Regions from separate parts of the Homo sapiens genome. Here region 2 is linked to region 1. Evidence: fine-mapped expression QTL. A gene starts in region 1. The other region holds a variant in brackets. All regions are shown on one strand. Distances are between the middles of the regions. Region 1 holds the start of ANKRD55 (ankyrin repeat domain 55). Region 2 overlaps ANKRD55 (ankyrin repeat domain 55).

What was found.
Region 2: its variant is fine-mapped to the expression of ANKRD55 in whole blood (TOPMed, PIP above 0.99).

The regions. Positions count from the first base shown.
Region 1 is chr5:56,227,369-56,243,742 of GRCh38, reverse strand. It overlaps ANKRD55 (ankyrin repeat domain 55), which reads left to right and starts at 10,413. Exons shown (of 12, transcript NM_024669.3): 1 at 10,413-10,502; 2 at 10,797-10,887. The coding sequence starts at 10,830. RefSeq lists an enhancer at 2,388-3,587.
Region 2 is chr5:56,152,751-56,169,124 of GRCh38, reverse strand. ANKRD55 (ankyrin repeat domain 55) reads left to right here. Exons shown (of 12, transcript NM_024669.3): 6 at 9,232-9,292. Among named protein-coding and RNA genes, the nearest start is that of ANKRD55, 72 kb to the left of the region's middle. RefSeq lists enhancers at 8,266-9,061, 11,452-12,247 and a silencer at 12,238-12,407. The variant A/G (reference allele first, on the strand shown) is at 8,118.

The DNA.
Region 1 (16,374 bases):
AGGTAGATCACGAGGTCAGGAGATTGAGAACAGACTGACCAACGTGCTGAAACCCCATCTCTACTAGAAATACAAAAAAGAAGATTGGCTGGGCATGGTGGCACACACCTGTAATCCCAGCTACTCAGGAGGCCAAGGCAGGAGAATCACTTGAACCTGGGGGGCGGAGGTTGCAGTGAGCAGAGATTGAGCCACCGCCCTCCAGCCTGGGTGACAAAGGGACAATCCGTCTAAAAAAAAAAAAAAAAATCAGATCTTGTGAGAGCTCACTCACTATCATGAGAACAGCATGGGGGAAACTGTGCCCATGATTCAATTACCTTCCTTGACACCTGGGGATTATGGGGATTACAATTCAAGATGAGATTTGGGTGGGGGCACAAAACCTAACCATATCATTCCATCCTTGTCGCCTCCCTAATCTCATATCCCTTTAATGTTTCAAAATCAATCATGCCTTCCCAACGGTCCCCCAAAGTCTTAATCATTCCATCATTAACCCGAAAGTCCAAGTCCAAAGTCTTATCTGAGACAAGGCAAGTCCCTTTTTAGATAAAATGGGGGTTCAGGCATTGGGTAAACACACCCATTCCAAATAGGAGAAATTGGCCAAAACAAAGGGATTACAGGCCCCGTGCAAGTCTGAAATCCAGCAGGGCAGTAATTAAACCTTAAATTTCCAAAATGATCTTTGACTCCATGTCTCACATCCAGGTCATGCTGATGCAAGAGGTGGGCTCCCATGGCCATGGGCAGCTCTACCCCTGTGGCTTTACAGGTTACAGTCCCCCTCCTGCCTGCTTTCATGGACTGGCATTGAGTGTTTGTGGCTTTTCCAGGCACGTGGTGCAAGCTGGCAGTGAATCTATCATTCTGGGGTCTGGAGGATGGTGGCCATCTTCTCTCAGCTCCACTAGGCAGTGCCCCAGTGGGGACTCTGTGTGGGAGCTCTGACCCTACATTTCCCTTCTTCATTGCCCTAGCAGAGGTTCTCCATGAGAGCTCTGTCTCTGCACGCAACTTCTGCCTAGGCATCCAGATATTTCCATACATTCTTTGAAATCTAGGTGGAGGTTCCCAAACCTCAATCCTTGACTTCTGTGCACCTGCAGGTGCAACGCCACTTGGAAGCTGCCAAGGCTTGCACCCTCTGAAGCAATAGCCTGAGCTGTACATTGGCTCCTTTTAGCCATGGCTAGGACACAGGGCACAAAGCCCTGAGACTGCACAAAGCAGCAAGGCCCTGTCCTGGCCCCAAAAACCATTTTTTCCTCCTAGATCTCCAGGCCTGTGATAGGAGGGGCTGCTGTGAAGACCTCTGACATGCCCTGAAGACATTTTCCCCATTGTCTTAGCAATTAACATTTGGTTCCTCATTACTTCTGCAAATTTGGGTTTTTCTTTTTCTTTTTTTTTTTGTTTTGTTTTGTTTTGTTTTTTGTTTTTTGTTTTTGAGACAGACTCTCACTCTGTCCCCCAGGCTGTAGTGCAGTGGCATGATCTCAGCTCACTGCAACCTCTGCCTTCAGGGTTCAAGTGATTCTCCTGCCTCAGCCTCCCAAATAGCTGGCATTACAGGCATGTACCACCACACCTGGCTAATTTTTGTATTTTTAGTAGAGACAGGGTTTCACCATGTTGGTTATGCTGGTCTCGAACTCCAGACTTCAAGTGATCCATCTGCCTCGGTCTTTCAAAGCTCTAGGATTACAACCATGAGCCACCACATCTGGCTGGAAAATGGGTTTTTCTTTTCTAGTGCATCATCAGGCTGCAAATTTTCCTAACTTGTATGCTCTGCTTCCCTTTTAAACATAAGTTCCAATCCAAACCATCTCTTTTTGAATGCATAAAACTGAATGCTTTTAAAAGCACCCACATAATCTCTTGAATGCTTTGCTGCCAAAACATTTCTTCCACCAGATACCCTAAATCATCTCTCTCAAGTTTAAAGTTCCAGAGATCTCTAGGTCAAGGGCAAAATGCCATTAGTCTCTTTGCTAAAGCATAGCAAGAGTCACCTTTATTCCAGTTCCCAACAAGTTCCTCATCTCCACCTAAGATACCTCAGCCTGGACTTCATTGCCCATATCACTATCAGCATTTTGGTCAAAGCTATTCAACAAGTCTCTAGGAAGTTCCAAACTTTCCCACGTTTTCCTGTCTTCTTCTGAGCCCTTCAAACTGTTCCAACCTCCACCTATTATCCAGTTCCAAAGTCACTTCCACATTTTTTGGTATCTTTATAGCAGCTCTCCACTCTCTGCAGTACCAATTTATTGTATTAGTCCATTTTCACACTGCTGTAAAAAACTGCCTGAGACTGGGTAATTTATAAAGGAAAGGAGTTTAATTGACTCGCAGTTCAGCACAGCTGGGGTGGCCTCAGAAAACTTACAATCAAGGTAGAAGGCAAAGGGGAAGCAAGGCACCTTCTTCACAAGGTGGCAGGAAGGAGAAGTGCTGATCAAAGGAGGAAGAGCCCCTTATAAAACCATCCGATCTCGTGAGAACTCACTCTCTATCACAAGAACAGCATGGGGGAAGCCACCTCCATTATCCAATTACCTCCACCTGGTCTCTCCCTTGACCTGTAGGGATTATGAGGATTACAATTCAAGGTGAGATTTGGGTGGGTACACAAAGCCTAACCATATCAGTATGTTATTTGTACATCTACGTATGAGGGGTCTTCAAATAGTTCATAGAAAATATGTTTTATGAAAAAACTATGTATGAATTTCAAGTTTTTTACACCAAAATAAACTCATACTAACATATCTGAAATAGACTCATACTAACATGTCTGAACAAGATCTAGTTGAAAGCACTAAGAAGCTTAAGATTTCAGTTTGAAAAGAGCCTCTATCAGAGCAACATGAATTCTGCTAAAAACAAAAACAAATGTTAAATTTATAGTCAAGCTTGAGTGAAGAATGGTGAAATCATTGATCCTTTATGAAAAGTTTATGAGCTCAATCCTGCTAAAATTGAAACAAGAACAAATATTATATTTATGGGGAAGTTTGAGTGGAAGAATGGTGAAATCGTTGATCTTTTATGAAAAGTTTATGAGCTCAACGCTCCCAAAGAAATCAGTCGTTTATCAATGAATAACTCATTTTAAGAAAGGACGAGATCACTTTGGAAATGAAGCCTGAAACAGTAGATCATCCATTTCAATTTGCAAGGAAAAAATTCAACTTGTTTATACCTTAATTGAAGAGAAATGACGATTAACAGCAGAAACAATAACCAATAACATAGACATCTCAATTGGATCAGCTTACACAAATCTGACTGAAAAATTGAAATTAAGGAAACTTTCCACTTGATGGATGCATCAAATAGTAGTTCTGTTTTAATTTATTTGAGAAATCTCCAAACTACTTTCCACAGTGGCTGCATTAATTTACATTCCCACCAATAGTATATAAGTGTTCTCTTTTCTCCACAACCTCTCCAGCATCTGTTACTTTTTGACTTTTTAGTAATAGCCACTCTGACTGATGGGAGATGGGTCTAATTGTGGTTTTTGATTTGCATTTCTCTAACGATTAGTGATGTTGAGCATTTTTTCATATGCTTATTGGTTACGGGTATGTCTCTTTAAAAGTGTCTATTCATGTCCGAGCACAGTGTCTCACTCCTGTAATCCTAGCACTTTGGGAGGCTGAGGTGGGCAGATTGCTTGAGCTCAGAAGTTCAAGACCGGCCTGGCCAATATGGTGAAACCTCATCTCTACAAAACAGTACAAAAAAGTTAGCCAGACATGATGGCATGCACCCGGAGTCCCAGCTACTTTTGGGGCTGAGGCAGAAGGATTGCTTGAACCTGGGAGGTGGAGGCTATAGTAAGTTTAGATTGCACCATTGTGCTCTAGCCTGGGTGACAAAGTGAGACCTTGTCTTGGAAAAAAAAAAAATGTGTCTGTTCATGTCCTTTGCCCATTTTTTAATGGGATTTTTTCTTGTTTATAAATTTGTTTAAGTTGCTTTTAGATTCTGGATATTAGACCTTTGTCAGATGCATAATTTGCAAACATTTTCTCCCATTCTGTAGGTCGTCTGTTTACTCTGTTGATAGTTTCTTTTGCTATGCAGGAGCTCTTTCATTTAATTAGGTACCATTTGTCAATTGCTTTGGTGTCTTTGTCATGAAAGACAACATAGGCATAGGCATATTTGTCAGGGCCTATGTCCAGAATGTTATTTCCTAGGTTATCTTCCAGGATTTTTTATAGTTTTAAGTTTTACTTTTAAGTCTTTAATCCATCTTGAGTTGATTTTTGTACATGGTGTAAGGAAGGGGTCCAGTTCCAATCTTCTGCACATTGCTAGCCAGTTATCCCACCACCATTTATTGAACAGGGAGTCCTTTCTCCATTCCTTGTTTTTGTCAACTTTGTTGAAGATCAGATGGTTGTAGGTGTGCAGCATTATTTGTGGGCTCTCTATTCTGTTCCATTGGTCTATGTGTCTGTTTTGGTACCAGTACCATGCTGTTTTGGTTACTGTAACCTTGTAGTATAGTTTGAAGTTGGGTAATGTGACGCCTTCAGCTTTGTTGTTTTTGCTTAGGATTGCTTTGGCTATTCAGGCTCTTTTGGTTTCATATAAATTTTAGAATCGTTTTTTTCTAATTCTAAAAATTTTTCTAATTTTTCTCTAATTCTGTGAAAAATGTCATTGATAAGTTGATAGGCATACCATTCAATCTGTAAATTGGTTTGGGCAGTATGGCCATTTTAACAATATTGATTCCTTCTTATCCACAAGCATGGAATGTTTTTTCATTTGTTTGTATCATCTCTGATTTCTTTCAGAAAAGAATAATAAAAGAATCTGTTTGAAAGATAATTCTCATTATAGAGCTCTTTCACCTCCCTGGTTAGCTGTATTCCTAGGTATTGCGTATGTGTGTGTCTGTGTGTGTGTATATGTATGTGTGTGTGTATGTGTATGGCTGTTGTGAATGGGATTGCGTTCTTGTTTTGGCACTCAGCTTGGATGTTGTTGGTATATAGAAATGCTACTAATTTTTGTACATTGATCTTGTATCCTGAAACTTTGCTGAAGTTGTTTACCAGATGTAGGAGCTTTGGGGCAGAGAGAATATGAGGTTTTCTAGGTATAAAATCATATCATCTGCAAACATAGATAGTTTGACTTCCTCTTTTCCTGTTTGGATGCCTTTTATTTCTTTCTCTTGCCTGATTGCTCAGTCTAGGACTTCCAGTACTATGTTGAATAGGAGTGGTGAGAGTAGGAATCTTTGTCTTGTTCCAATTCTCAGAGGGAATGCTTCCAGAATTCAGTACAGTCCTGCCTATACTGGGTTGCCCATTCAGTATGTTTTTGGCTGTGAGTTTGTCATAGATGGCTCTTATTATTTTGAGATATATTCCTTCAATGCCTAGTTTGTTTAGGGTTTTAAACATGAAGGGATGTTGAATATTATTGAAATTCTTTTCTGATCTAGTAAGATGATCATGCGGCTTTTGTTTTTAGGTCTGTGTATGTGATGAATCATATTTATTGATTGGCATATGTTGAATCAACCTTGCATGCTAGGGATAAAACCCACTTGATTATGGTGGATTAACTTTTTAATGTGCTACTAGATTCAGTTTGCTAGTATTTTGTTGAGGATTTTTGGATTTATGTTCATCAAGAATGTTGTCTTGTCACCTGAAATAAACTGTTTCTGGTGGTCTTTACTAATAGGTATTGAGAGGAAAAAGCATTTGCCAGAGCAGTAACTGCATACTATGTACCAGAGAGTGTTTTAATTTGCTCAAGGAATAAAACCATATCTGAACAACAGCTGCAATTGGAGTTGCCACCTGGTTAAGCTTACTATAATCCACTGTTATTCTCGAAGATCCACCTGTCTTCTGCCAAATTGGAAAGCATATTGGAGAGTTGAATGGAGATGTGGTGGGAATCACCACCCCTGCATCCTTCAGGTCCTTTATGACCTCTACAGTTCCCCCAGAAATGTCGTATTGCTTTTGGTTTAGTATTTTCCTAGGTAGACACAGTTCTAGTGGCTTCCACTTGGCCTTTCCCACCATAATAGCCCTTACTCCACGATTCAGGGAACCAATGTAGAGATTCTGTGAGCTGCTAAGTATGTCTATTCTAATTGTGCATCCAGAACTGGGGAAATGACCACAGGATGGCATTGGGGCCCATTAGACCCACTGTGAGATGGATCTGAGCTGAAATCCCATTGACCGCATGACCTTCAAAAGTCCCTCCTCTGACTGGCAGGCCACAGTGATATTTTGAGTCTCCTGAAATTAGTGTCAGCTCAGAGCCAATGTCCAGTAAGCCCTGAGAGGTCTGATTATTTCTCTTTTCTCAATGCACAGTTACCCTAGTAAAAAGGCCATACATCTCTTTTGGGGAAAACTGAGAGAAAGATTAACAGTATAAACATTTAGTAGGGTACCAGGGCCTTTCCTCAAGGGCTCCAGCCTCCCCTTCATTTAAGGGGTTTTAGGTTTGTAAACAGGCTCAATTCTGGGAATTAATTGAGGGATCATGATTCTCTGTTTTTATGATTCGTGTTAGACTTTTGTCACTTAACCTAGAGCTTTTCTGCTTATGCAGATTAAGAATTTCATAGGCTTCCTATCTATTTTACTTTGAGAAACGCCATGATCAACTAGCCAATGCCATAGGTTTCTATGACTCAGACAACTCTGATTGCTGCTTGGACCTCTGCTGTCCATTACAGCATAAACCAAAGAGTGACTGAGGTAGATCTTAATTGACTGCAGGTTTATTTTGCCAAGGTTGAGGATGCAACCAGGAAAAAGAAACACAGGTCACAGTGGGATCTGTGACCTGGGCTTTTTCCAAAGAGAGTTTTAGGAACTTCAGTATTTAAAGAGGACAGAGCAAGCAGAAGAGGAGGGAAATAAAGGAGAGAGGATAGGCAATGAAACAAGTGGTCACCTTTTTGTGAGGCTCTGATTAGCACTCAGTGAGTCTACATATTACATGTGGAAAGAGGGAATAGAGTTGGCCGGGCGTGGTGGCTCATGCCTATAATCCCAGCACTTTGGGAGGCTGAGGTGGGCAGATCACCTGAGGTCAGGAGTTTGAGACCAGCCTGGCCAATACGGTGAAACCCTGTCTCTACTAAAAATACAAAAATTAGCCGGGTGTGGTGGTGGGGGCCTGTAATCCCAGTTACTCGGGAGGCTGAGGCAGGAGAATTGCTTGAACCTGGGAAGCAGAGATTGCAGTGAGCCGAGATCACACCACTGCACTCCAGCCTGGGCAACAGAGCAAGACTCCGTCTCAAAAAAAAAAAAAAAAAAAAAAAAAAAAGAGGGAATAGGGGAAAAAGCAATTACACATTTCTCTCATGCCCAGTAACTCTACATATGATAAAGTCAGCATGTGAAAATACAGCTATCTGTTTGGGAACGAAAGAAGACAGCTTTTTGCATGACTCAGTTCTCAAGCTTAAATTTCCCTGTGGCATAGTGAATTTGGGGTGCCATGATTCTATTTTTTTTCCACAACAGTAACTATGCCCACCTTGTCTTTGGCAGTTGAGTACCACCACTTAGCCCTACCATCCTAGGATCCAATTATTCCCACTGCATTTAGGTTTCCCAATTCAATGACTGCAGTTCTCACTGTCTGCAGAGAAGAGCAATCACAGAACTCTTCAAAGATGCTGGGGTTCCCCTCACAGATTTATTCCTATTCCTCACGGTACTGCTAAAAGTATGTCTTCTAGACCCTCCAGTGTGGGTGAGTAGTTCTTAAATGACAAATCCACTCTGACATTCCAATCTCCCTAAGCCTTTGAATCTCTTCCACATTAAACCAAGGCAAGTCCAGTATTTCCAATTTGCTCACCCTGGGCCACTTTTTGGTCCATGTTTCAACCCACTAACCTGACTGTTAGAACACTTTATAACTGCCTGAGCTGCAACAGTAAATGCAGAATTTCTGCTTAATTAGTTAATATCAATAAATTCAACCTGATCTAACTTTATGTTCCTTTCACCATTATTTCACTCCCTTAGTATCCATTCCCATGTTTCCTGGATTTTTAGGAAGTTCAAGTAATTATTTTGGAATATAATGTACTTCATGGGTCACACTTTGCACCTCACCTTTAGGGGCTGCTGGGACTTGAGTCTAGTTATAGGTCTAGAAGCAGAGGAACAATGGTGGTGGCTCCTGAAGAGAATCAGCATTGTTGTGCACGGCAGCTGCCTCAAGGAAGGCCAATACAGTTTCCTCAGGCAATTCAGAGTCAATCTTCTCAGACTGAGGTGAAAAGGCTGCTACCACTGGAGATGGGGAGGCTGCTTCTACTAGGGATTGGGAGTCCACTTCCACTGGCAAAGAAGACTCCTCAGAGTTTAGATGCTCAGTGTCCCCCAGCTTCATCAGGGTCTTCTCACATGTCTCTATCCAATTTACAGTATCCTCTACTTTCCCAATCAATGTCCTCACTTTAACAGCAGACATCCTGTGAAGCTGGGAGTTTGACTTGCGCTGTAATTCAGGAGTTCAATTTGCATTGTAATTCAGGCAGCTGCAGCATGAGAGCCTGCATTTGATTGCAGCATCCTCAGCCTCATGGCTACAGGAGGTAAGACTCTCCTTCAGGGTACACATACACACCTCCAGGTCATCTATATGGCACCTGAGCTGGGAATTAGAATCCGTGAGCTAATCCTTTTCTTTCATCACTTTGTCCAGTGACATTAGGAGCAACCAGCCATATTCATTAAGTTTCCAAAAATGTTTGAGGGTATCATCTACACAGTCACCCAACTCCTTGCCTGTTGTGTCCAGTGATTAATTAGGAATATTCAGTGCAGCTTTTTGCATATCTCTATTACCACTTCACACCATGGACTATCAATGCTCTCTTTACTCCTAGAAATAAAGCTATTAGAATCCTTAAATTTAATCAGATTTGAGAGCCAATTCCAGAAACCCTAGAACCAATCCTCAAGTACATGGTTTCTTGTTTAGACTAGAAAATTTCAAGGACTACAGAAGTTCTTGTCAGAAAGTTCTTACCCCATGAAGGATGGTTAATTGGGTTCCAATGTTACAATGTCAGTGAGCAGGTTGTCAGCTTGAGCAAGGAAAGTTCTTCAGTGAAGTTTCACTCATGCACTGAAATGTACTGAGCACCTCCTTTGTGCCCCTCTCTGTGCTAGGCTGTAAGGACATGGAGTGGACAAAGCAGACAAAGAAAGAGTAGACAAAGACCCTGCCCTTATGAAATGTACCCTCTTGTGGAGAAATATTTTAATTTGGGTTTCCGTAAAAGCAGACCCTGAGACAATGATTCCAATGCAAGTAACTTATTGAGAAGTGCAGGAAATATCAGTAGGAACGTGGGAAAGTAATACAGGGAGGGAACAGCAGCCCATAAAAAGAACGTTATTAGACCTATTCTCACAGGTGGCAGTGGAGTTTAACCCTGAAGGAGTTTAATCCTGAAAGGGAAATGGCAAACGGAGTAAAACACCATGCCTCAGAATCATCCTATCCAAGGGCAAAGGAAGCTGGTGTTTATTATTAGATTCAACAAGCATCTACTATATGGCTATTTGACTTATCCAAAAATCTGGTTGTGCCTAGAATATAGAACTTTGTTTGAATTTAGTATATCATATTTTTATTACAAATACAAGATAATAGATACTGGTTATTAACAAGCCAAAAATACAGAGATTGATACAGAACAAGTTAGAAATCTCCTACTCTAATCACAGTGGCCTGAGGGAACCAATATTAGCAGTTTAGTACGTATCTTTCTACATCTTTTTCAGTGTTCGTCTGAATATATAAAAATAATGTATACAGTGAGTGGTTTCCGGTTTTATTAAAACACGAACAAATGAAATATATAACTTGTTTATTTCATTTAACAATAGATTAGTGACATGTCACCAGATAAATACACAGATTTATTTATGTCAGATTTTTAAATCTAGAGTACGAATTTACTACCATTTACTTAGCTGCTCCCTGAATGAGGTACATTCGGGTGATTTTTCAGGTTTTACTACATGTAATGCTACAATAAACACCCTTGTGACAGCAGACTGTTTTAATTTTATCACCACAGACACTCGAGCCTTGAAATGTCACCTTTCAAATGACGCCTTTCCCCATCCTCCCTGTCAATTGGAGAACGGAGCTGAAAGGGGAGTGAAGAAGACTGCCAACATGGATAATTACTCCACACAGCACATGGCCAGCAGCCTCCTGCTACAATATTTACATCCTATTCCATTGAGATGGCACTCTCTGCTCACATGACCCAAATGCAGTTCTCACTCCGCCAAAAGCACAGCCGAATGCGAACTGCATTGGCAGCTTTGCACATGCTCTGTCTGGCCCTGTGAATCCTCACTCACCCATTCAGATTTCTGTTGGTGTAAAGCGACATTCCAGCTGCTGAAGCTCCGTGATCTGCTGTGTTTTTCCAGCCCAGATCCAAGGCAGGTGGCCCATACAATTTTACTATCTTTTTGGAGTTTGAGTAATTGTGTTTATTGATTTGGGGGTGGAGGGTGTATTATGCCCATGTACAGCTGATGAATGAGGCCATAGAGTAACTCTTTTCCTAGCAGGTATTTACAGGAATAGCATTTACCTATTTTCATCACCTTGCCTTGACAACAACCTGCAGCTCTGATGCACATTTAATCCTGAAACAGAGGTCTTGGCAAACGATGCTGCCTCTGACTGTCATGTTGACAGTAAGGTTTGAGATGGTGTTTTCTCCTCTCTAGAGACCTGGATGCTTTTTGCCATTCTGATGGTAAATGATGAGACAGGCTACCATGGATTTCAGCACCCCTTCTGTGTTTGATCAGCAAAGAGGTAAAATGCTGCTTTAACACATTCTTTGGTTGTTAGCATCCTTAGTCTCATGGTATGGATTTACAGTTGTAAGGAGAGAAAGAGAAGTGTGTGTGTGTGTGTGTGTGTGTTCATGTGCGTGGGTGTGCATGAGTATTTGCTATGTAGGATGTGGAAAGAGGATTTCACCTAGAAAACAAACCTGTTCAAAATGTTCACTTCTAGTTTGATAAGCATCTGAAACAGAAAAATAAGCTTATGATCTGTTGTATAAGCTTATGATCTTGTTGAAGTATTCCTACCTTCAAATTTTAAAAACTGGATTTCAAGCACACCAACTATTTCAGATAGTGTCATCTTTATTCTGTTTTTTCCAAATCTTTTTTAAAAATTAGGGTAAGCAATGTAAGAACACATCACATTTTTTTTGTCATTCGATTAGCCCAGTATCTCATTGCTGTATCTTCGTAAGCATTTTTTTATTCCTTTCAGGAATAGATGTTGCCTGTATTTATGTCGGGTTGATATGTTATCTCATCCAAGGTTGTGTAATGACATATCCCTATGCTATTATTTGCAATGCCAGGGTATATCTTCCTTACTTATAATTTCTGGAGTGGAGGTAATTTTCCACATCAAAATGTTGCTGTGAGATCAACTTATCCTTATAATATCACATATTTGGCCATGTGGTCTATGTGTATACATTTTGCATATGCAATGTGTTTATATACATCTTCGTGTAATACTTATGTGTAATAGTAAATCTTTTTTTAGTATAAACATGAAATTTCCATTTTATAAACATAATAAATATTTTTTAGAATCTTTTCTTAAATATCTATTATTTAAACCACTTTCTACAGTCTCTGAATATTCTTCAAGATCCTAAGTTCCTTTGGTGATTTTATCTGTTTTGGCTACAACATGAAATGGTGGTTTGAAAAAGCCTCATTAAGAAAATGTACTGCTTCATTCTTTTTTCCCTTTTCCTGCTCTAGGCCATAGCATGTTTATTACCCCTCAAGCTACATCTGGCTTTGTGGGTGAATTATTTTAGCCCAGGGGGTTTCTCCAAAAATAAATTTATATTTAGATTCCTGAGTTAGCTAATGTATATATGTGTATAGTGTGTTCTCCAGGTCTTAGCTCATTTGGAATAGTGTTTGTGTATGTGTATGTGTGTGTGTGTGTGTGTGTGTGTGTGTGTGTGTGTGTGTGTGCGCGCCTTCAGAACGTGCCGGCTCATACCGTGTTTGGATCTGAACAGCATAGAGAAAGGCGTTGTCACAGCTGTGCCCACCACCATCCTCTCCTCCTGGTACATTTTATATCACTGATGGCAGTCAGTAAAAGTGAAAATCTGCTAAGAACCAAAGAGCTCACACTGGCTGAAAAATGATGTTGCTAAGCCACGAAACATACAATGGGTTTATTTTTGAAGACTAATTGGAGGGAGCTGGGACTGACTGAAGAAGAACTAGCTCTTCATAATGAATTTACATGTTCCAGTGCTGTACCTTCTAACAGGATTGAGCCCCAAACATAGTTAAGATACAGAATTACAAGACTGATTTTCTTTTAACACCTTTCATGTGAGCAATTCACAGCAATTCCTCCACCTGGGCCGGATTCTCTCCCATGGAAGTTAACCCTCTCCCTGCCATCTTTATCTCTATTTCTCAATCCTTTCTCTCTTTCTAGAGGTTTTATCATATGATGGAAAGAGCATGGGATTTTAAATCTTATAGACGTAGATCAGAATGGCAGATCATCTACTTCTTAGCTGTGTGACCTTGGCAAGTTACCTAACCTCTCTGGGCCTTAGTTTCCCCAGGAATACAATGAAGGAAATGATGCTTACCTAGCAGGGTTGTTGTGAGGATCTAAAATAATAACATATAAAAAGCACCTGTTAGCAATGCCTGATATTCAATAAGTATTTTCCCATTTTGGCTGCAGCTGTTATTATTATTGCTGTTGTTATTATCACCTTGGACTGGGAGTTTCTGAAGTGCAAAAGACTACTCATCTCTCTACCTTCAGCCTGAATGTAGCAGTCCTCAGATCAAATGAGGGCTTAGTGCTGGATGACTAAATTACATTAATTATTTTTTTCAGAACCCTAGGATACCATTTATAGCAAGACCTAGAATAATAATTAACTAAGCCATTCCTGAATAGTTTTATTACCCATTAATCCTTCCTCTTTCTTAAAAGCATGAAAGACCATGAGGGTTGAGACCATTATACAGATTTTAAATACTATATTGTTGGACAAACCAAAGGGAGGTGACTTTCTCGGGAAAAGTTGAACATGGGGCTTTAGTTGAGGGTTTTTCATGAATCGTTACTGTCTGGATAAGTGAACCCTAGCAGTACTGTCTTTACATGCAGATGGGGACAGAAGACATTGCAGCTGGAAGAATCTTAGCAATCAAGTAACCTGTTGGTTCTCACATTGGCTGTACTTAAGAATCATCTGGGCCGGGCGCAAGGCTCACGCCTGTAATCCCAGTGCTTTGGGAGGCCGAGGTGGGCAGATCCCAAGGTCAAGAGATCGAGACCATCCTGGCCAACAGGGTGAAAGCCTGTCTCTACTGAAAATACAAAAATTAGCTGGGCATGGTGACACACGCCTGTAGTCCCAGCTACTCGGGAGGCTGAGGCAGGAAATCGCTTGAACCTGGGAGGTGGAGGTTGCGGTGAGCTGAGATCAGGCCACTGCACTCCAACCTGGCGACAGAGCAAGACTCTGTCTCAAAAAAAAGAAAAAAGAATCATCTGAAGAAATTCTGAAAATGCTGATGCTTGCATCCCACCCAGGGAGATTCCAGTTTAACTGCAGTGGTTGGCCCAACCAACACTCCTTGGGAAGTTCTCATGGACAGCAAAGATGCAGAACCAGTCATCCAACCTACCCCTCTTCCACATTTCAGATGAGGGAACTAAAGCACAGAGAGGTTCAAAGTTGGGTCCTTCCTAATAATAATAACAACACCCCACTAAATAGCAACAGAGGGGACTGAGGCCCAGGTGTTCTCCATCCATACAACAGGGCAATAGGAAGCTTCCTGCACATGGCCAATCCCTGGCCTAGCACTGACTCTGGCTCATGGCTGCCCAGAGAATGGTGGAAGAATATGATGCAGAAGGACCTTCAGGGCTCCAACGAGGTGGGTTTGGTAAGACTGAACCCCTCCACATGCATTTTCCTATATTTCTCTTTAGCTAGAGGCAACGAGGCATGCCAGGGTCTTGGTGACAGATGGTCATTTGCTCAAGTCCTGTCTCTGCCCTCTTCCTAGTTACATGAACTTGCACAAACTAGTTGATCTCCACTGGCTTCTGTCTCCTTGACTGTAAATGTGGATAATACTATATTACATATTCACAGAGCTGCTGGAAGGCCCAACGATCAGATCATTTGACTGGCCAGGGGCATGGTCTCTGGCTGGCTTTGCAAAACTGTGAGGGAGGAAGCCTGGGTCTTCAGAACTCTCGACTCTCTTTTGTGCCTTCAGCTTTCACCATAGCAACATCTCTTCTGGTCCCACGTGTTCTTTCCAGCTGTGTTCCCTCTCAAAGCCCACACACGCAGGAAGCGACCTGTAGTAAAGCCATTTACTACAGAACACAGAGGTTCCTGCTAAAGTCTACATATTATGTAACTGAAGATACTTGCATTGTAAGCTTTGTCACGACTTGTGGAAAGAAAAGTTTTGCTGCGCCTGAAAGAATCCCAAACCTGAGAGAGAAAACAGGGAAAAAAAAAAAAAAAAACAGGCGAGGGGTCGGCGGGAGGTGGGGGGATGGGTAGCCTCAGGGCCTCACCCACTCTTCTGTATTGTTGGGGGTGAGGAGGGCCTGGCCGTGCCAGGGTCTCTGAGGAAATATGCCTGACGAGGCTGAGCGGTGTGTTTGCACACACCTGTGTGGGCTGTGGTCCACCCTCTTGCACAGGTCGTTTCTCTTGTCGAGTTGCTGGAAAAAGAGAGGAAGGGCTTTGTCTTCTAGCCCAGATTAATAGAGTGTGTGATTGTCTCTGTGCTGCTGTAACCAATTATCACAAGCTGGGTAGCTTAAAACAACAGAAATTTATCCTCTCACAGTTCTGGTGCCCAAAAGTCTGAAATCAAGATGTCAGCAGCAGGCCGGGTGCAGTGGCTCATGCCTGTAATCCCAGCAGCTTGGGAAGCCAAGGTGGGCAGATCACCTAGGATCAACAGTTTGAGACCAGCCTGGCCAACATGGTGAAACCCTGTCTCTAGTAAAAATAAAAAATTAGCTGGATGTGGTGTCATGCGCCTGTAGTCCCAGCTACTTGGGAGGCTGAGGCACAAGAATTGCTTGAACTCAGGAGGCGGAGGTTGCAGTGAGCCAAGATCGCGCCACTGCACTCCAGCCTGGGTGACAGAGTAAGACTCCACCTCAAAAAAAAAAAAAAAAGTCAGCTGGGGGCCTTCTCCTAGAACCTTTAGGAAAGAATCTTCCCTGGTCCTTCCAGCCTTGGCTGCTGTGGCCTCATCACTCTGGTCTCTGCCACCATCTTCACTTGGCCTCGTCTGTGTGCATCGCTCCTCTGTGTACCTGTTTCAAAGTTCCTCTGCCTCTCCTTTAAGGATGCATGTGATTGCATTTAGGGACCACCCAGATAATCCAGGATAAACTCCTCCTCTCAAAGTCCTTGGCTTAGTCACATCCTTTCAGATATAAGGTCATAGTCACTCTCTTGCCATGTAAGGGAATAGCCACAGGTTCCAGGATTAGAGGTTAGAACATGTCTTTAGGGCCACCATTCAACCCATTGCAGGGAGTGAGAAGAGGTCAGATCCCAGAAAGCACGCAACACTGTGACTCGGTTTTTGGTAAAATCCATTCTCATTTAAGCTAGGAGAAAAATTGGCAAGTAAGAGGTGGGGGAAGCGGGGAGCATCTGTTTGGTGCAGACTCTGTGCAGGGCTTTACATGGATACATATTGACAAGAGCGAATGTTTATGGAGCATTTAGCAGATCCAGGCTCTGTCCTAAGGACTGCACACAGACTAGCTCATATAATCCTCATATCAGCTTCACATATGACCCCCTTTTATCGATGAGGAAATTCAAAAAGGTTATGACCTACCCAATGTTGTCACAAAGTAAAACAGCAAAGCTAGGATTCCAAGCTAAATCTGTTTCACTTCAAAACCGGTGTTCTTTCTACTGCAGAATGTCTTTTCCTTGGCCAGCAATAAGGTTTAATAAAAAAAAAAAAAGACATCAATGGAAAATCAAATTAATGAAACATTTATTTTCACAATCAAGCTCTTATTCCATTGTGTTGTGGATTTTTAAAGTTCCCACGCACAGATGTGCAGGGGTTTTTTTGTTTGTTTTTTGTTTTCTTTTATACTTTAAGTTCTAGGGTACATATGCACAGTGTGTAGGTTTGTTACATATGTATACATGTGCCATATTGGTATGCTGCACCCATTAACTCGTCATTTACATTAGGTATATCTCCT
Region 2 (16,374 bases), 75 kb after region 1:
AGCACTTTGGGAGGCCGAGGCAGATGGATAACCTGAGGTGAGGAGTTCAAGACCAGCCTGGTCAACATGGCAAAACCCCACCTGTACTAAAAATACAAAAATTAGCCAGATGTGGTGGTGAGTGCCTGTAAGCCCAGCTACTCAGGAGGCTGAAGCAGGAGAATCACTTGAACCCAGGAGGCGGAGGTTGCAGTGAGCTGAGTTTGCACCACTGCACTCCAGGCTGGGCGACAAAGTGAGACTTCGTCTCAAAAAAACAAAAAGTTTATCAGACATGTAACCATCCAATGTAGGGGGGTGGTAGGTGGCTCCCTGCCACATGGCAATTCAGGGACCCAAGCTTCTTCCATTCTGTAGCACCTTCATCCCCTAAGAGCACAGAATGCCCTTCATTCAGCCTGCAGATGGGGAAAGAGGAGAACAGTAGTCTCCCCTCACCCTGGAGGGGATATGTTCCAAGACCCACATCGATGTCTGAAACCTCAGATAGTACCAAAGTCCATATATGCTATGTTTTTTTCCTCTACATACATACCTATAAAATTTAGCGTACAAATTAGGCGCAGTAAGAGATTAACAACAATAATAATAAAATAGAACAATTATAACAATATGCCAGTATCACTACTCTTGCACTTTGGGGCCACTGCTAAGTAAAATAAGAGTAATGTGAACACAGTGCTGCGATACGGGGACAGCTGATTTGTTAACCGAGCTGTCTCCTAAGTGACTAATGAGAGCGGAGTGTAGTTAGCGGCAGATTTCATCATTCTACTCAGAATGCCGCACAATTTAAAACATGAATTGTTTATTTCTGGAATTTTTCATTGAATGTTTTTGAACCACAGTGAACTGTGGGTAACTGAAATAATGGAAAGCGAAACCGCAGATTAAGCAGGGACTACCCTATAGAGAAGCCACACTCAGTTCTTTAAAACCTCAGCCTGCAAATGACACAATTCATTTCTGCTCATATTCCATCAATAAGGACTAGTCATACAACCACATCTGGTTATAAGGTGCTCTGGGGAATATAGTTTCTAGCCAGGAATCTACCTCCCAACAATGCCTCCAATCCAAGAAAGGGGAACATGGATTTTGGTGAAAAGCTCTCTGTCTCTGTTCTTAACCCATTGCACCTAAGGGGTAAACTAAGCCTTGTCAGTCAAAATTACATTCAATGTCAATTGGATCAGTTGATTAGGTTCATTCTCTGAAATCACTGCAATAATAAATTGAAAATCAACCCAAGTGTACTTCCTCTTTGTGGACTTGTGTTTCTATTTCTTATTATGCTTATCAGTACTCCTCGACTCTTGAGGATCTACATTAAGTTGCTATAACTAGGAGAGCAGAGAGTTGTGGCTTCCCCTCTCTTGAAACTGTACCTAACAGCCCAGCCACCACCCTTGGATGAGTTGAAATAAGAAAAATAAACATCCTTCTGTGTGCAGATGACGTAGTTAGTTATATTGTCCAAAAAGCCCTTAACTGATTCTGAAAGATAAAATTCTGCTTTAGTTATGGCAATGCTAGCTGCTTTAACTAATAATCCCAAAAAGTTAAGATTGACTATTCCAAAACCAAAATTGTTATTTCTGGTAAATGCTCTCCAAAGATTAATTGGGTTAAGTCCTAACAACCATACAGCAAATCAAATAGAGTCACACGCTGCATAATGACATTTCAGTTAATGGCAGACTGCATGTGTAATGATGGTCCCATAAGATGATTATATCATATTTTTACTGTACCTTTTCTATGTTTAGATACATAAATACTTACCACTGTGTTACAATTGCCTACAGTGTCTAGTACAGTCACATGCTGTGCATATTTGTAGCCTAGAAGCAATAGGCTCTACCATATAGCATAGGTGTGTAGTACGCTCTACCATCTAGGTTTGTGTAATACACTCTATGATGTCCACACAATGATGAAATCGCCAAACGACACATTTCTCAGAAAGTATTCCCATCATTAAATGATGCATGACTGTAGTTTGGTTACCTACAGAATATTGGAAACTAGTCCACCCTAAAGGATTCCCTATGGAATTACATTGTTAAAATTACATATTTTATAGTTGTTTGAGAAATTTTAGGTCCATGGCAGAGTTTGATACATCTGCATTAAATGTTTAAAGTAGAAACCGAATTTATTTTAATGGCCATATTTTGACATTAAGCCCTTGGTCTCCGTTGAGAAGCCTTATAAGAAACAGTCTTACAAAACTTCCTGGCTCATGATTCATTAGCACCTCCGAAAAATTCTATATGAGAAACCACAAGAAATATTTCTACTGAAGAAGGAATTGCTATGCTGCTCCTGATAAATCATTTTTTTTAATTTTACTATACAGACACTGTGACTTCAGAGCATGTTTCTTTCTTTATATATTTAGAAAATTCAAAACTCAATTTGTGTCCCACCTCTGGCATACATGTAGGACTATAGATCATGTCTTTTTTTTTCCTGCCCGTGTTTTCTCTTTGTCTTGTTTCTTCACTCGTTATCTTATTTCACCATATTTGTCTGAAAACAATCTAAAATCCCTGAAGGGGCCAGGCATTGTGGCTCACACCTGTAATCCTAGTGCTTTGGGAGACAGAGGCAGGAGGATAACTTGAGGCCAGGAGTTCAAGACCAGCTTAGGCAACATAATGAGGCCTCATTTCTAAAAATGATTTTTTTAAAAAAGTAGCCAGGCATAGTGGTGTGCTCCTGTAGTCCTACCTATTCAGGAGGCTGAGACTGGAAGATTGCTTGAGCCCAGGAGTTCGAGGCTGCGGTGAGCTATGATCGTGCCACTGTAATCCAACCTGGGCGACAGCACAAGACCCGAAGGAAGGAAGGAAGGAAGGAAGGAAAGAAAGAGAGAAAGATAGAGAGAAAGAAAGAAAGAAAGAGAGAGAGAGAGAGAGAAGGAAGGAAGGAAGGAAGGAAGGAAGGAAGGAAGGAAGGAAAGAAGAAAGAAAGAAAGAAAGAAAGAAAGAAAGAAAGAAAGAAAGAAAGAAAGAAAGAAAGAAAGAAAGAAAAAGAAAAGAAAGATCCCTGAAGGGTGGCCAGGAGTGCCAGCTCATGAGTATGAGTCAGACTGACTGAGTTTAAATCTGGCTCCAGCTCTTATTCTCTTGGGCAAGTTAACATGTCAAGGCTCAGCTTCCCCTTGAAATAAGTACTATTTTTTTTTTTGAGACAGAGTTTCACTCTTGTTGCCCAGGCTGGAGCGTAAAGGCGTAATCTTGGCTTACCACAAACTGCGCCTCCTGGGTTCAAGCAATTCTCCTGCCTCAGCCTCCCGAGTAGCTGGGATTACAGACACGCACCACCATGCCCGGAAAATTTTGTATTTTTAGTAGAGATGGGGTTTCTCCATGTTGGTCAGGCTGGTCTCGAACTCCCAACCTCAGGTGATCCGCCCACCTCAGCCTCCCAAAGTGCTGGGATTACAAGAGTGAGCCACCACACCTGGCGAAGTAAGTACTATTAAATATATTATTCCTGCTTACTTCACAGGGAAGTAGGCAGAAGTAAAGGAGAAAATGTGTGGAAACGCTGAACTCAGCACCTAGTACATTGTCCGTGTTCAGAAAGTGAACATGGTGATGATGATGGCGTGATGATATGATAATGTTGATGGTCATCAATGATGATGATGATGGAAGATAGAAAGAAACACCATAAACATTATAAGAAGCTAAGGAATGAAACACTACTACTGCCACCCCACTGGTGCTCATCCTGGCCTTCTTCACCTCAGCACACTCAGGTCCACAAAAATGTGTGCACAGACACAGGCCCATGTAAATGCAGTCCTACATCCTACTGCCGGGCACACAGGTTTACTGCAATGGTTGTTGGGGTGTGTTGTTTGTGTGGATCTATGCACACCTTTGTAAACTGGCATATGTCTGCATTTTCCCCTAATCATAAACAGTATGTACAGGCCACATAGTGCCCTTGTGCTCAGGTTTTTATACTGATTTAAAATCTGCTAACACTTAGATTTCCAAACAGCAAGCTCCTTCTATTTGGTGCTCACTGGAGGTTATTCAGAGAGAAGCCTCAAACCGAAGCTGCTTATAAACAAGCTAAGGGACGCTTCAATTAGTCCTTTGCCTCCAGAGGGATTTTAGTGCTCAGATGGAAACAACTCCTGAACAAACCAAACAGTATGAATCTGCATCCTTAACTAAACACCCGCTCAATGGGGATGGAGGCTGATGCAGGGATAAGTGATTTATAATCATGAACGTGAAGGCACACTGGGTTTACAAAAGCAAAGATGCACAGGTTTCCTCTCATGATTCCCCTTCCTACTTTGAACCCTCTGCTTCTCAGCAGGTCCAAGTTTTCCCCCTTTCAGCTCCCCAAGGCTTTTCTTGCTTCCTTGGCTGGGACATTCAGAGGGCGCTGGTGTGAAAGAGGGGGCATGATCATTAAAACAAAGCTCCAAAGAGAACAGAGTTGTGTTTGTACAACGCTGCACATGCTAGTGTTGGAAGGCAAGCAGCAATTTTCTCTGAAAGCAGCCACGGGGCTCTCTGAAGGTCTTTTTCATGGTCTCCATGGCTACTGGCAGACTTTTTTTCCTCCCTGTCAGAGTGCCAGCCACTCTGCCTCTTTTCATCACTCTTGACTGCAGCCCAAGGGAGGAAGAAAATCATTTCCTTGGGGTCCTGTTCTCTAGTTACCAGGTGGTGTGTTCTGACCTGCAGTGTTTGTCTCACTGCAGCACACTCTAATACAGGCAGCTCCAGGGACAGGAAGGGGAGACGGCTGGTTGTGGGACCATTTTTTCCCACCTGTCACTGCGCTGGCCAGCTCCAGGGCTGGGAACATTCAGAGGGGCCAGCGAAACAGGAAAGCTCATAGGGATGAGTTGTCCCCAGGATGCTTCTAGCTGATCCTTCTCTGAGACCCACCATTCACCTAATGATAATCAGTGGAGACCCAGAAAATAGAAGGTAGGAGCTATTAAAAAATTAATCATTTTATAGAATTTTTTGTTTGTTTTTTGTTTGTTTTGAGACAGAGTCTCAAGCTCTGTTGCCCAGGCTAGAGTGCAGTGGCATAATCTCGGCTCACTGCAACCTCCACCTCCCAGATTGAAGCAATTCTCCGACCTCAGCCTCCCTAGTAGCTGGAATTACAGGTGCCCACCATCATGCCTGGCTAATTTTTCTATTTCTATTACAGACGGGGTTTCACCATGTTAGCCAGGCTGGTCTCAAACTCTTGACTTCAGGTGATCTGCCCACCTTGGTCTCCCAAAGTGCTGGGATTACAGGCAGGCGTGAGCCAGCGCACCTGGCCATATAAAACTTTATTATGGCATGTAAGGGCTATTCCAAGTGCTTTGTGTGCATGGAGTCAAAGTCATGACAGATCCTGAGGAAGTAGGTATTATTCTCTGCATTTTATGGATAAGAAAATGTAGGCACTGGGAGCTCGCCCAAGGTCACTGGCTGGTTGGTATGGAGCAGGGATTCTAACAGTGGCAGTCTGGCCCCAGCATCAGTGCTCTTATGACTCAACACACCACCTGTCTGGGACTGCTCTTGCTGGGGTCCAAGCCTGCTGTACTGGCACCTGAGATGAGATGGGTCTTACATCACTTACTCAGAGATCCGAGGACAGGAGGGAGTCTGAACTTGGCTGATGGGGGTGTAGAATGACTCCTGGGCCATGGTAACACAAAATGAGAGCTCGGGGGAAGCACAACAGAGGGCTGCAAATCATCTAGGAATTGACATAGATGCTGGACAAGTATCTCGCAGGTCACCTCCATACCACAGAACAGCAAGGAAGTCCCAGGCTGGCAATGAGACACCTGGTTTCTGGTTCAGGCTGTATCACTGAGCCACTGTATGGTGGTCTTGGCAAGCCAGGAAGGGCCTCAGGTTCTTTGTTCTCACAACATATGAGAGACAGCCAGAGCCAGAGTGAGGGCAAGAATGCAGGAGAGGGCCTTGATCTGTCTATTTGTGTCCAGCTTTGACGATCAATGGATCTCAGAGACTTCACAGTCAAGTGGAGTTGGGCCACATAGATCATCACATATCAGTCACAGCCATGACAGAGAAGACATGGGAATTAAAGGGTGGCAACTGGAGAAAGTCTAGGGAAAGACTATTTAAACTTGACCAACAAGGCTGGATAGGGTGATTCACGCCTGTAATCCCAGCACTTCGGGCGGCTGAGGATCGTTTGAGTTCAGGAGTTCAAGACCAGCCTGGGCAATATAGTGAAACCCCATCTCTACTAAAAACACTAAAAAATTAGTTGGGCGTGATGGTGCACACCTGTAGTGCAAACTACTCTGAAGACTGAGGCAGGAGGATGAATCGCTTCAGCCCAGGAAGTCCAGGTTGCAGTGAACTGTGATTGTGCCACTGCACTCCAGCCTGGGTGACAGAGTGAGAGCTTGTCTCAAAAAAAAAAAAAATTGACCAAAAATTGACCAACAAGAGATGATGGTTGATGTTCTAACCCCCTACCCCACCCCCACTTTCCCCAAAAGAGCAGGAAAATGTTATCACTTTCTAGACCTAAAGGGGCAAGGAAGGGGCTGTTACTGGAAACTTCTGAGAGCTGCAGTGGTAGCTTAGCTGTAGGAGAGGGGCCACCTGGCAAGAACTGAGGCCTTTGGTAGAGAAATACAATTATTGCCAGAAAGGGAGCTGGCTTCTCTCCCTCCTCCTGCCAGTTCCCCCATCGGCAAAACCCGATAGGAAGCCAAGGGCAAGGGAGCCTGGTTGATGCGGTCCCTAGAAGTCAGCCTCAGAGCAGGGCAGTATAAAGAAGAGAATGGCTTTGAAAGCCAAATAGAGAACTATCTAGGCACACGGTTCATCCCACAACCTTGGGAGGCCACCCAGGATATGACAAGAGGTCCTGCTCTCCCTACCCCCATTCTAATCTGGTTAGAGCCCCAGAAGATCCTGTCTGGCTACAGATAATCTCTGTCTGCTCAGGAGTAACCAAGGATAACCACACTGGACCACAGCTGACCTCCTGCCTTGCCCTTCCCTCCTCCCCCAGTCCCTCAGACCAAATGGGCCCTAGAGAGTAAACAATGGCCAATAATGAGCCAGAGAAGACAGAAAGGAAAGAAAGAAAGGAGAAGCACAGTCACAAGGTAAGCCCTGCCCCCACTCACAAAGCAGCCACAGGGAAATATATCCAGTGGTGAAATAATTGCAAAGATAAAAATTGTGTGACCCAAAATGCAATTATTTTTATATGTCTTCCTACCAAAGGCTACATCTAGAATTCAGAGAGCATAAAAGAGATGTACTGTATGCAGTCATAGCCATTGTCCCTTTAGTGTATGTGACCCAGGGTCTTTCTGCCTGTTGGATCACTCAATCCTTTACACCACTGCGTTACTACCCCTCTGATATACATGAAGATACAGAAACTCAGATCGTGCAGTAGTGAGGTCAGAATTAAACCTCAGCATTATCCTGGCTCCCCAAAAGACTATGATACAACAAGATTGAAACCACAGGCTTCCTGGTTATTTCACCTCCACCGCAAATAACCAGAAGTCCATCTCTATTTAAGCTCTCTGTGTATTACATTTACTGCTAAGGCAATATGATTAGTGGATCTTTCTTTTCTTCTATTGCAAGTAACAATTTAATACTTAGGGCTTTAGATGTCTTCCAATCTGAGAGACGATAAAGATTTGATTGGAGAAGAGACTAAACAATTTCATTTTACAAATAATTCTTCCAAAAGCAATTTCTGAATTTCCTCCATTGACTGCCCATACACTATTCTTTATCATCTTGATGAGTATCCATTGATTAATTCTTTCAGCACCTTTCTCAATTGTTTCCAAGCCTGGCTGTTTACCATAATTTCCTGAATAGCTTTTTTTAAACAGTAGAAGCTGGGCTTCTCCAGACCTACTGAGTTAGAAACCCTGAGTACAGAGTCCAGGTATTTGTGGTTTAAAAAAAAAAAAAATCTCTCCAGGCAATTCTGAGATGGAGCCAGGGTCCAAACTTCTGGGGTTAAGCACTCTAGAAATAACAGCATGTTCCAGGCATGCTCTATATGTTGTATGCATATTAACTCATTTAATCCTCACACTGAGCTGTGTG[A/G]TAGGTAGTTTTTATCACTCCTATCTCACAGATGAGGAAGTTTAGGCAGGAAGAAGGTAAGTAACTTGCCTGAGGTCACAGAGCTCATCAGTGGCAGGGCTGGGATGTAAACCCAAGCCATCTGGCTGCAGAGCCCGGGCCCCTCTCCACTATGCTCGGCTGCCCCCCTCTCCCAGATGGAGCGTTGACTTCAGTCAACTGAGCAGGAGATCCAAGTCAGGTAAGAGCCTGAATCTGAGAATCATTGATAGCTGTTTTACACTGATTACTGTCATCTTGTGCTTAGGCATGTGTGTATTTTACAAAGAATGAGCAAACTTGCAAATACTGACAACCTCCTGGTATAATCTATGCATTAAAAAGGCATGACATATGCAGCTAGGAGTGAAGCAGGTCGAAAGCACTCTGTAAGTTTCTATAAAGTGAATCTTGTGCTTAGGCATGTGTGTATAAAGAATAAAGAATAAGTGGCCGGGCACGGTGGCTCACACTTGTAATCCCAGCACTTTGGGAGGCTTAGGCGGGCGGACCACGAGGTCAGGAGATCCAGACCATCCTGGCTAACACGGTGAAACCCCGTCTCTACTAAAAAATAGAAAAAATTAGCAGGGCGTGGTGCGGGGCGCCTGTAGTCCCAGCTACTCGGGAGGCTGAGGCAGGAGGATGGTGCTAATCCGGGAGGCGGAGCTTGCAGTGAGCCAAGTTCGTGCCACTGCACTCGAGCCTGGGCAACAGAGCGAGACTCCATCTCAAAGAAAAAAATCATAATAATAATTGCTACATGATTTTGGATCTTAAAGGGCATGGCTAGGAGACAGAGGCCTGGTGAACACAATGAGCCTAAAGTTTCTCCATCCCCTTGTGCCCCTCGGGAGTGCTGAGATGAAGAGAGGGTGGGAGAGGCAGACAGTAGCCCTCCACACAGGTGTCTTCTAACCTATCACACTCTTGCTTCTTTTCTGTGGATCTTTTTCCCAGAGAAACGGAAAGGGCCCTCATCTTCATTTGGAGTCTTTCAACTGACGGTTTTTCTAAGGTCATGTTTTTATACCGATTCCAAGAGCACCGTGACTGCCTGTTATTTTGAGCCATTTCTCCTATTTTTTCCTTACAGGCTCCTCACGGTCCTGTTGCAACAGTCGAACATCAGCGAGATTAATCACCAGGACAATGAGGTGAGCCACACTCTCAAGCAACAAGTGGTCATTTTGCATGTGAGGGTGAAAGGAAGGGCGTTTCTGAACCATTGTGCTTCCTCTTAAAAGCTACGGGGAGACATGAGGCATGGTTCTGTGTTCCTACCCTGAAAGGGAGACCTGTTTTCACTATTAATCCTCAGCAGAAACTTATCCCCACCATGGGTGTGTGTAGCTTCTGATAGGGAAGGACTTTATTGCATTAAGTACTTCAGCATTTATCATACGACTGAAATTTTGTAACTTCCCTCTGGACATTGAGAAATAAATATTGCTCTCTCCTGTCTTCTCAAGTCCCAGAAACTTAGTAGCAAGCGGTGGCTCAAGACGTGCTCTCTTTTTTTTTTTTTAAGATGGAGTTTCGCTCTTGTTGCCCAGGCTGGAGTGCAGTGGCACCGTCTTGGCTCACCGCAACCCCCGCCTCCCAGATTCAAGTGATTCTCCTGCCTCAACCTCCCCAGTAGCTGGGATTACAAGCAGGCGCCACCACACCCGGCTAATTTTGTACTTTTAGTAGAGATGGGGTTTCTCCGTGTTGGTCAAGCTGGTCTCAAACTCGCGACCTCAGGTGATCTGCCTGCCTCGGCCTCCCAAAGTGCTGGGATTACAGGCATGAGCCACTGCACTCAGCCTAAGACATGCTCTCTCGTGTAAGATGGCAGAGAGGTGGGTGTAGTGGCGCGTGCCAGTGGTCACAGCTACTCAGGAGGCTGAGGTGGGAGGATCACTTGAGCCCAGAAGTTTGAGAGTCCAGCCTGGCAACAAAGTGAGACCCCCCTCTCTGAAGAAAAAAAAGAAAGAAAAAGGAAAACAATGACAAGACTGGACACTGGCTCATGCCTGTAATCCCAGTGCTCTGGGAGGCCAAGGTGGGAGGCTCACTTGAACCCAGGAGTTTGAGACCAGCCTGGGCAGCAGAGCGAGACTCCATTTCTACAAAAAGTTTAAAAAGTAGCTGGGTGTGGTGGCACATGCCTATAGTCCCAGCTACTCTGGAGGCTGAGGCAGAAGGATCACTTGAGCCCAGAAGTTCAAGGTTACAGTGAGATATGATCACATCACTGCACCCTAGCCTGGGTGACAGAGTGACATCCTGTCCCCCTCCCCTCCAAAAAGAAAAGAAAAAGATGACAGAGAGATAATATTAATAATTCCGGGTTACCTGCTCCAGACATCACATTATTAATCCCAGTGATCGTAACTGCTGTTTAATTCATGTTGCAAGTAGAAGGCTTCCAAAAAGGTCGTTCAACACTCTTCAACAAAGTTCTTGAGGGAAGGTGGCTCAGACACTAAGCAGAGCTGTCCAAGAGTAGCTTAGAGTCTTGTTAGATCTGCTTAACTCTTTTAAAATGCAGTACTAATTTTCCTTAGCCAGGCTGATTTCCTTAACAAGGTTCTTAAAATCAATTTAAATACCTGGTTTTCAATGGAATTTTAAAGTAAATATGTGCTTGGTTTGGTTGCATTTCACTAAGAAAGTCTGATAACATTAAAAATGTACATACACAAAGATGCCGATTACATTATTTTCAAGGAAGCTAGGTGACCATAGGCAAGGGGGCGGGGGTAAGCCTCCTAATCACTTTCTTCTGGGGCAGATGCCCCCGCATCTGCCTTTTTTTTTTAAATAGACAGATTCTTACTCTGTCGCCCAGGCTGGAGTACAGTGGTGCAATCTCAGCTCACTACAGCCTCCGCCTCCCAGATTCAAGAAATTCTCCTACCTCAGCCTCCCAAGTAGCTGGGACTACAGGTGTGCACCACTATGCTCGGCTAATTTTTGTATTTTTAGTAGAGACGGGGTTTCACCATGTTGAGCAGGCTGGTCTCAAACTTGTGAGTGAAGGGGTGGCCTGCCCCTCCATACCTGTGAACGTTTCTCGTCAGGTGGAACGAGAGACTTGAGAAAAGAAAGAGACACAGAGACAAAGTATAGAAGAAGAAAAGTGGGCCCACGGGACTGGCGCTCAGCATAAGGAGGACGCGCGCCGGCTCCGGTCTCTGAGTTCCCTCAGTATTTATTGATCATTATCTCTACCATCTCAGAGAGGGGGATGTGGCAGGACAATAGGGTAATAGTGGGGAGAGGGTCAGCAGGAAAACATGTGAACAAATGTCTCTGTATCATAAACAAGGTTAAGAAAAAAGTGCTGTGCTTTTGATGTGCACATACATAAACATCTCAATGCCTTAAAGAGCAGTATTGCCGCCAGCGTGTCTCATCTCCAGCCCTAAGGCGGTTTTCTCCTATCTCAGTAGATGGAATATACAACTGGGTTTTACACCAAGACATTCCATTGCCCAGGGAGGAGCAGGAGACAGATGCCTTCCTCTTATCTCAACTGCAAAGAGGCCTTCCTGTTTTACTAATCCTCCTCAGCACAGACCCTTTACATGTGTCGGGCTGGTGGACGGTCAGGTCTTTCTCTTGCCATGAGGCCATATTTCAGACTATCACATGGGGAGAAACCTTGGACAATTCCTGGCTTTCCTAGGCAGAGGTCCCTGTGGCCTTCCACAGTGTTTTGTGTCCCTGGGTACTTGAGATTAGGGAGTGGTGATGACTTTTAACAAGCATGCTGCCTTCAAGCATTTGTTTAACAAAGCACATCCTGCATAGCCCTAAATCCATTAAACCTTGAGTCGACACAGCACATGTTTCTGCGAGCACAGGGATGGGGGTAGGGTTACAGATTAACAGCATCTCAAGGCAGAAGAATTTTTCTTAGTACAGAACAAAATGGAGTCTCTTATGTTTACTTCTTTCTACATAGACACAGTAACAGTCTGATTTCTCTTTCTTTTCCCCACAGTGAGTTCAGGTGATCTGCCACCCTGGCCTCCCAAAGTGCTGAGATTACAGGTGTGAACCACTGCGCCCGGTCCACCCATCTGTCTTGAGCCTTCTGATTAAAGGCCTCCCTCTGACTAGCATTAATGACCACATCAGAAAGCCCCTGCTGCTTTCACTCCCCATATCTTCAGTGGTTTAAAGCAAAACCTCAGAGGAAAGAGGGTTGCACTGTTAGAAACTTCTGCTTTAAAGATGAGAACCAGAGATGAGGTAGCACACTCTGGTCACTCTGCCCATGGTGTCGAAGCAGGGAGCTGGAGTGGCGGAGTCCATGTCAGCAGATTGTGAACCTCTAGATTTCAGGGCAAGTTGCCAACTACTTCCTCCACCTCCAACCTCTGGGGTAATCCCTAAACTAGGTCTTATTTAGAAAGATGACAAATTTGCTCATTTATACCCTAAAGCTAAATTCCACTTATAGACCTACAACTCCAGCACCCCTCAGTAGAACTAGCAACCCCCCAGCAAAGACATAGTTCCCTATTTTTCTCCACCCCAGGAGGCACCTGGCGGTGCAGACAATGAAAGCAGACATGGATCTTTCTAAGAGTGGTAATTGTAACACCTTACATAGAATATGTGGTAAATATTGGAAAAGTCCCTGGTTCCTCCTCATGCAAAGGGACTTCTGCAAAAAGATTCCTCCTGCTATTACACCAGCATATGGACCCGTTGGGTTTTAAGCCCAGAAAGCAGACCCAGCAGAGCAAGGGCCTCAACAAGGCACTTCCTACCCATGGTCACAGCTTCCTCTTTGGTCCATTCACAGCCTGCTGTCTGGAATCCATCTGAAACCAACTGCTAATGCTTGCCTGTGTTTTTCATACACATGGACTCCGCCACTCCGGCTGCCTGCTTCCACACCATGGGCAGAGTGACCAGAGTGTGCTACCTCATCTCTGGTTCTCATTTTTAAAGCAGAAGTTTCTAACAGTGCAACCCTCTTTTCCCCTGAGGTTTTGCTTTAAATCACTGAAGATTTAAAACAAAACATAGGGATATATATGTGTATGTATATATTATGTATCCATATATGTATGTGTATGTGTATATATATGTATCTGTATATAGATATATACATGGTTTTGGTTTTTTTTTTTTTTTTGAGGCAGGGTCTCATTCTGTGGCCCAGGCTACAGTGCAGTGGTATGGTGCGATGTCAGTGCACTGTAACCTCCGCATCCTGGGCTCAGGTGATCCTCTCACCTAGCCTCCTGAGTAGCTAGGACTACAGGCAGACACCACCATGCCAGGCTAATTTTTCCATTTTTAGTAGAGATGGCACTCATATAACTCTGAGGCACTCATAATTTTGTTTTTGACTGAGCTCCTGTACTAGGTCAACAGACCAGGCCAAATATCAAAATGGAGTCCCTCATACTTAAATTCCAAGTTACCAAACTGAGACCGAGTTGTTATCTGACCTTCTGAGAAATCAGGAGAGAGATAACACCCAAATTTCCCAAACAGGCTAGTTTTACTTAGCATAATAATGAAATTTCCTCTGCTTTTAATCCTGACAACAAAAAGTAACCTAAAGTAACCTGATGTTAAGCAATCAGTTTTTTCTCTGTTGTTCTGTTTCCCTGTTCTCATCTTTCATCTTTCAAGGAAAGTAACTTTGAAATAACCAATCTGCTTTTTGTTCTTTGCTTCTGCTTTTTTCAGTCCTTCTCTGTCTACAAAACCAACCTCCTCTGCTGGGCTCGTTGGAAAACTTTTTTTTTTTTTTTTAAGACAGTCTCACTCTGTCACTCAGACTGGAGTGCAGTGACACGATCACAGCCCACTGCAGCCTACTGCCTCAGCCTCCAGAGTAGATGGGACCACAGAAACCCTGCACCACAGGCATGCACAACCATACCCAGCTCATTTTTTGTTTTTGGTAGAGACAGGGGTCTTCCTATGTTGCCCAGACTGGTCTAGAACTCCTGGATTCAAGTGATCCTCCCGCCTCAGCCTCCCAAAGTGCTGGGATTATAGGCGTGCACCACCATGCCTGGCCAGAACATTTTGGAATGAAGCCCAGTTCTAGAATTGCAAATGAAGCCAGTTAAGATCTTTGAGGCCCGGCTCCACGGCTCACGCCTGTAATCCCAGCACTTTGGGAGACTGAGGTGGGTGAATCACTTGAGGCCAGGAGTTCAAGACCAGCCTGGCCAACATGGCCAAACCCCGTCTCTACTAAAAATATGAAAATTAGCCGGCTGTAGTGGCTCATGCCTGTAGCCCCAGCTACTCCAGAGGCTGAGGCAGGCGGTGGAATTGCTTGAACTTGGGAGATGGAGGTTGCAGTGATCTGAGATGGCGTGACTGCACTCCAGCCTAGGCAACAGAGCAAGACTCTGTCTCAAAAAAAAAAAAAAAAAACTTTAAAACTAAATCTTCTGCTGTAATTCCGTTTTTGCCAATTATTTATTTTATTTAGTTATTGGTCATTGCTAGTGAGAGCCAATCACGATAAATTTATAACAGCAAAAGCTCTTGCCATTGAGAAATAAATACAATTCTGAAATGGAAAGAACACAGCCCAGGCTTTCTTTTTCATTCATTACTTTGGTGGAGTTCCTGTATTTGGCTGCTCAATGTTTTGAACAAGTAATCTTCTCTCGTCTGTCTTTTTTCAACAAGCTCCAAGCATGATGTAGCCTCCATTGTATGAGGGGTAGCGGGGAGTAACAGTTAAATTCATTGTTTAAAAAAAGGTACCACTCTATGTGTTCTGCAACTTTTTTTTTTTTTTTTTTTTTTTTTGAGACAGAGTCTTACTCTGTTGCCCAGGCTGGAGTGCAGTGGTGCGATCTTGGCTCACTGCAAGCTCCACCTCCTGGGTTCTGCCTCAGCCTCCGAAGTAGCTGGGACTACAGGCACCCGTCACCACGCCCAGCTAATTTTTTTTGTATTTTTAGTAGAGACGGGGTTTCACTGTGTTAGCCAGGGTGGTCTCAATCTCCTGACCTCGTGACCCACCCGCCTCAGCCTCCCAAAGTGCTGGGATTACAGGTGTGAGCCACCACACCCGGCCTAACTTAGTTTTTTCAACTCAAGCATTTGTCTTAGAATTTTTGATACATATAGATCTGGCTCATTCCTTTTTTGTTGTTGTTGTTTTGTTTTTTTCGAGATGGAGTCTTGCCCTGTCCAGGCCGGAGTACAATGGTGCGATCTCGGCTCACTGCAACCTCCACCTCCCGGGTTCACACCATTCTCCTGCCTCAGCCTCCCGAGTAGCTGGGATTACAGGCACCCACCACCACGCCCAGCTAATTTTTGTATATTAGTAGAGACAGGGTTTCACCATGTTGGCCAGGCTGGTCTCGAACTCCTGACCTCGTGATCCACCTGCCTCGGCCTCCCAAAGTGCTGGGATTACAGGCGTGAGCCACGGCACCCAGCCTGTGGCTCATTCCTTTTAATGGCTTCATCATGTTACATAATATCAAAATACCCCCATTTATTTTGCCATTCCCCTATGAATGGATATTTAGGTTGTCTCAATTTTTCACCATCATAAACACCAGTCTAAAGAGTGTTTCTTGTACAAGCCTCTTTGCATACTCTGTGCAAGCATTTCTCTTAAAAGAATAATTGCTGGGTAGTAGAGAGTGTATGTTTTTATTTTTAATACACACTGCCTAATTATTCCCCCAAAATAGCTGCGTGTCGTTGTTGTTGTTGTTGTTGTTGTTGTTTTTAGTGGAAGTACTGGTTTTTTCCCAGTTGTTGCTGGATTTTCTTGTTATTTGCATTTTCCCTGATTAATGAGATGAACATCATTTCATAGACATAATGGTCTTTATTATATCTTCTTTTGTGACTTGCCTGTTTACATTCTTTGTCGATTGATCCATTGGGTTGTCATTTTCTTATTGATCTATAGGAGTTTAGTTTATATGCTGAATATTAATGCTTTGCTGTTGGGTTGTAAATACTTTTTCGTAGGCTGTTGGCTATTTTGAAATAGTTCATAGTACCTTTTCTTATTCAGAAATGTAAAAATCTGATATAATTAAAATGATCATTCTTGTCTGTTTCTGCTTTTTCTTTTGATGTCTTTTTAAAGAAGGCCTTCTCTACCCCAAGAACTGGATTATGTTATGTTAAATTATGTTTTTGTTTGTTACCAGATTTTTTTTAATATATGGTTTCATTTTTGAACTCTTTGTTCTGTTCCAATGATCTGTTTGTTTTTCCTGTTTCATTA